Linked DNA regions of Homo sapiens: region 1 is linked to region 2. The links come from fine-mapping of genetic effects on gene expression. A gene starts in region 2. The other region holds a variant in brackets. All regions are shown on one strand. Distances are between the middles of the regions. Region 1 overlaps LOC124902477 (a long non-coding RNA gene). Region 2 holds the start of IFIT1B (interferon induced protein with tetratricopeptide repeats 1B).

Region 1 (2,917 bases), 85 kb before region 2:
TGATACCATGATACACATGAGTTATATAGTCTTAACTAGCCTTTTGATTTTTTTTTTCTTTTAAGCATGAGACCACAAGGAGTCACATACTGACCTTTAGGCAGGACAGTGCTTTACTCAGAAATCCCTGACCATGAGCTGAGTGCAATGATTCCTTGACTGTGGGTTGGCTCCCCTGGGAAAGGTCCCATTATGTTCTATGTTTGGGAAGAAGTGTATACATGGTTATTTAGGGCCAGAGCAGGATACTGTTGTGGAAACAACTCATGATCCTTCCAAATTAGTGTTTCCCCTTCATAATATGAAGTCGTCACCAGGAAGGGGGCTTCCTACTCTGCAGCTACATGAACTAACCTTCACTTCTCCCCAGGTGGGCCATGAACTAGTGCTTCCTAATAGAATGTGAGTGAATGTGATGTATGTCATTTCCAAGTAAAGATGGTTAAGAATCAGGTGTACCCTCTTTACTCTCAATTTCCAGGCTCTAGGGGATGGTAGAGTCACAGGATGGAAGAACTCTGTGTCCTTGAATCATTGCATGGAAGAGAACTGGAAGTTGCCCAGGAACACCAGCCTTGGACAGTTATGTGAACAAGAAATAAACTTCTTTTACAGTGTCATTTATGTTTTTGAGCATCTTTGTTACAGCGGCTAGGTGTATACTAATTCAGGGATTCTGTGATAGCAATATTTCTTCTTCTTTTGAGTAGGTTTCCAAAACTTGATTTTCCACAATTCTGAAATATTTTGGTTCTGGGATAAACTTTTCTACTCTTTTGGCAGCACAAAGATCCCTTTGTACAGAGGCACTGATTTGTCTTCTTCTGGAGTAGCATCCCAGTTTCTCACTGTGGCCAACAAAGCGAATAAAAAGAAAAAAAGGATCTGAAATAGCAATCCAGCGGCAGCCACCAATACCTGATAATACTATAGTCAAAGCTCCACATTAGAGAACAGACCACTTTCAGGTGAGTGGCCCCTGGCCCTAGAAGTAAGTGGTATTCAAAGATGGTAAATGGTATGGGTGGCAGTAGAAGGTAGTAATAACTAACCCTTATTGGGCATTTACCATGTGCCAAGCACTGTTCTCAGAGCTTTATACATAGTAGTCCACTCAATCTCCACAAAACCCTATGTGGTAAATACTAACATAATTCCTTTTTCTTTTTTAGAGACCTAGTCACGTTCTGTCACACAGGCTGGAGTACAATGGTGCAATCTTGGTTCACTGCAGCCTCAAACTCCTGGGCTAAAGCAATCCTCCTGGGTAGCTAGGACGACAGGCTCATGCCACCATGCCTGGCTACTTTTTTTTTTTTTAA[T/C]TGTAGAGATAGGGTCTTGCTATGTTGCCCAGACTTGTTTCAAACTCCTGGCCTCAAGCAATTCTCCTGCCTCTGCCCCTCAAAGTGCTGAGATTACAGACATGAGCCACTGTACCTGGGCACAATTCTCATTTTAAAAATGAAGAAATTGAGGCACAGAAAGGTTTCTAATATGGTTTGGCTTTGTGTCCCCACCCAAATCTCATCTCAAATTATAATCCCCATAATCCTCATGTGTCAAGGGCAGGACCTGATGGGAGGATTGGATCATAGGGGTGGTTTCCCCCATATTATTCTCATGATAATGAGTGAGTTTTCATGAGAGCTGATGGTTTTATAAGCATCTGACATTTCCTCTGCTTACATTCACTCCCTCCTGCTGCCTTGTGAAGAAGGTGCCTTGCTTCCCCTTTGCCTTCTGCCATGATTGCAAGTTTCCTGAGCCCTCCCCATGGAACTGTGATTCAGTTAAACCTCTTTCCCAGTCTCAGGTAGTATCTTTCTAGAGTATGAGAACAGACTAACACAGTTTCCATCTCTATTACTTAACAGCAGCAGCCAGATCCCGGCCCCCTTTTCTCCACCCATATGTAATTCCTCTTACGGTCTCCACTTACTCTTTTTTTTCCCCATGGACTTGTCCCATATTGTCTAATTTATTTATTATTGTATTAGTCTACATTGGCTGCCATAATGAAAAATCACAGACTAGGTGGCTTAAGCAACAGAAATCTATTTTCTCACAGTTCTAGATGCTAGAAGTCCAAGTTGGTTTCTGGTGAGACCTCTCTTCCTGACCTGGAGATGGCAGCCTTTTCTTTATCTTCACATGGCCTTTCCTCTGTGTGAGATGAGAGAGAGAGAGAGAGAGAGAGAGAGAGAGAGAGATATCTGAGGTCTCTTCTTTTTCTTCTTGTTTGTATGAAGACGTCAGTGTTACCAGATTAGGGGTTACCAGATTAGGGGCCCCACCCTTAAGACCTCATTTAACCTTAAATACCTCCTCACAGGCCCTATCTCCAAACAAAGTTACGTTGAGGGTTAGGGCTTCAATGATGAATTTTGGGAAAGGAGTTGGGAACTCAATTCAGTCCAAAGCAGTTGTTTATTGCCATCTCTTCCTGATAGAATATAAGCTCCATGAAGACAGAGATCTTTGTGTACTGATGTATCTTAAGAGCCTAGAATGGTGCCTGGCACATAGTAGATTCTCAGTAAGTATTGATTTGATGAACGAATGGTGAATGAATGAATGAAACAAATACTCCTAGTGTTCTAACAGGGATAAGTGTACAAATTGTCCCAGCAGAAGTTTATTTAGCATGGTCTTATTTCTGAATAGGACTATGGAAAGATAAAGTCATTTACCCGCATCAAGTTTCCACTCAAAGACTGCCCAACTGCAGTCTAAAAAATTAATGCTGAAAAATGTCTTAGTCCATTTTTTTCTGCTATAACAGAATACCACAGATGGGCAGATTGGGAGATTGGGTAATTTATAATGAACAGACATTTATGGACACATGGTTCTGGAGGCTGGAAAGTCCAAGATCAAGGGGCCACATCTGGCCAGGGCCCTCTTACTGGGTCATCCC
Region 2 (2,905 bases):
TTGAACCTGGGAGGCAGAGGTTGCAGTGAGCAGAGATAGTGCCACTGTACTCCAGCCTAGGTGATACAGCGAGACTCTATCTTAAAAAAAAAAAAAAAAAAAAAAGAAGAAGAAGTCAAGAGGTCCAGCACATTCTTCTAGGAACTTGTCTCATGCGAATGGGGAGATGTGGTCTATCTCAAGTTGCCTAAATCCTTCCTTGAATAGACGTGGAGATGGGTTTTTAATTCACATAGAGAGAGAGATTATATACTATACTCTTTCTTAAGCATATTCTTTTCCTAAGATGTCTGCTCTCATTTCAACTGTGAATGCATAAGATCTTATGTGACGTTCCTTTTCTGGGTAGTCCTTCTTGTCTATATAATTTTTGGCTTTAGAAAGGTCAGGAGCAGTAACTGGAGCAGTAACTCAGAAGTTCCCTGAAAAGAAAGAGAAGAGCTGCCCCAGACATCTGAGAGCATCATTAACACCTGTGACCATGATGGGTCAAGACAAAATACAAGGCCACTCTGTAATCAGGTCTGAGTGCAGACAAAAATACGAATATTTTCCAACTGGATTCGAAAATAATCAAGCAGCCCCTTAAACTGGCCAATATGAATGACTGCTGCTTCCTTTCAAATTACACCTGTCACCTTGGTCTAGTCTTCTCTTTTTCCAGACACAATTTAAGATACCCAATTATAGAATCATTTCTGCTTCCTGACAGCCTCCCATCCCATGCCCATGACCACACCTTACCACATGGGAGCCTGGGAAATATAGTCTAGTTACAGGCCCAGGACAAAGAAGAAATAGCACAGCGAGGCTACAGTTTCATTTGGTAATTATGAGAAGACTGTAATGAAGTTAATAACCCTACCTTGAAATGCTCACTCAGAGGGAAATCGCTCTCAGTCTTTGCCCTTTTGCTTATCTTGGTGCACTACCCCTACAAAACCAAGATCCAGAAACGTACAGGATGACATTGTAACAATTCACAAGAGGAATTCAGAATAGCAGCTTTCCAAATTTTCCTTTTTCTCTGCTAATTGTGTGGGCAATTACATCAGCCTTGGGATCATATAAATTTTTCATTAAACATGTGAACATTGTTTGATTGACTCTCTGATGGTTGTTGCTTTGTAACAGATAATCTTCAAAATAGTAGAAACAGAAGAAACATAAGGACAACTCAGAAGAACTATGTGAATTTGGATTTAGATTTTTAACCCCCATGACCCCATCACATTCTCTGACTACATTGCATATGTTTCTCTACTGACCAGCTCAAACATTGTTGTTTGAACCACTAATGGTGAACAGTAAAGATCATCAAAACAGTCAATATGCTTGAATAGGCTCCACTATAGCCAGGGTTGGCAGTAATGCAAATGCTGCTGGAGGATGTAACCAGTATGGGACCCTTCTTATAGACCAATATCTCAAAATTGAGGAGTTGTTTTGCCTAACACAGCCCCACAGAAGAAGACCTAACCATCTGCAACCTCATTCTTCCACAAATTGACAATGACTTTCTACAGTATTCTTTTAGGCACAAACCACTGACCCTGGTCTAAGGAGCTTCCATTGTAGACGTCCCTGGAACCACCTGGCGGGATACATGTGATAGTAACAAGTTTGACAACAGAGTCTGACATGATTCACAAAAATATACGTTCCTGTCTGCCACTGGTTTTTCCACAACACTGAATGTCATCATAAAGTCCAGTTACCCTCTATCTCCTACACCACATTGACTCCAGCAAGGGAATTTGCGTATCAAAACTGCTTCTCACACACCCATCCTCTTAGCTGCCAAAACTCAGCATGTATTTGTAATCAAAGCAGAGACAGCCCTATTCCTCTGTATCATTTTCACCCTGCCAATTCACTAGGCATCAAGGGTGTAAAAAACTGCCTGGATATACCTCCCATATATAAGCACCATGCTTATCTGAGAAGCCCTAGAACTCTGTGGATGAACCTTGAAGGAGCCTCCAAGCCTGAACCAAAGCACTACAGATCACCTGCTATCTTCATAGCACCATGAGGTAAAGTCTTTCTCTGCTTCACTGACCTTATTTCTGCACACTTTGAAATTCTAAAACTTTCCTTAAGGGCCAATTTTTTGACAGGCCTTCTCCTAAGGGAGCTGTCCCACTGGTGGTTCTGACCCTGATAGGCACCCTCAACATGATAACCAAGAAGAGTTTAATAAGGGGGCTATTTAAGACGATATGGGCAAAGTTTAGGGAAATCAACAGGAAATGGTGCTTGTTGGTTGCAGGGCAGCGGGAAGAGGCGTGTTGGTTTACAACAGTGGTAACATGATAACCCTGGGCCTACAGGAGCAAGAGGAGAGAACCAGACCCAAGGAGACTCTAAGCTATAGCTGTAGGGGAGGGGCTTCTCAAGAGGCCTTTGGTGAAAAAATCACTGACAACCTCAAGCAGAGCACAGTGGGAGCTTAGGAATTAATTCCATGACCTTCACCTCCTCCTGCAATTTAATATCTGGCTGGTGCTCCCCAGTGGGCCAACCCCAGTAGAAAGTAAAAAATAAAAGAGTTTTGGAGTTAATAAAGTCCATAGAGTCAGCTTCCAAGCACAGAGCATGGTGAAGAATGTAGGAAAGTAGATTCAGAGGGGCAAGATGAGAATATATGTAGAGGCAAGTTTCCTAACTCCTGTTACAGAGCTCGCTTAGTAAGGGTAGCTGGCTTAATAAAAGCAGCAATGCTCTTAAGGAAATAAACGAGAAAGCAATCTTATTTCCAAAGATGTCATTTCTGTAGCACTTTCTAATAGAGGGACAATTACCCAGGCAACACTTAAAGACTGTTCACCAGGGAACAGAGGCCTGAGCCTAGAGAGGAGACTGGCCCGGGGACCAGTCAGGGCAAGAGCATTGAGATCCTTTT

What was found. PIP is the estimated chance that this variant, and not a neighbour inherited with it, causes the effect.
Region 1: its variant is the best candidate, but not a certain one, in a credible set for the expression of IFIT1B in whole blood (TOPMed, PIP 0.60).

Annotation. Positions count from the first base shown.
Region 1 is chr10:89,291,506-89,294,422 of GRCh38, forward strand. It overlaps LOC124902477 (a long non-coding RNA gene), which reads left to right. Exons shown (of 3, transcript XR_007062233.1): 3 at 482-620. LOC105378419 (a long non-coding RNA gene) reads right to left here. Exons shown (of 3, transcript NR_188200.1): 2 at 2,067-2,163; 3 at 605-848. It also overlaps a transcript of LIPA not described here. Among named protein-coding and RNA genes, the nearest start is that of IFIT2, 9.1 kb to the right of the region's middle. The variant T/C (reference allele first, on the strand shown) is at 1,323.
Region 2 is chr10:89,376,105-89,379,009 of GRCh38, forward strand. It overlaps IFIT1B (interferon induced protein with tetratricopeptide repeats 1B), which reads left to right and starts at 1,952. Exons shown (of 2, transcript NM_001010987.2): 1 at 1,952-2,036. The coding sequence starts at 2,032. It also overlaps a transcript of LIPA not described here.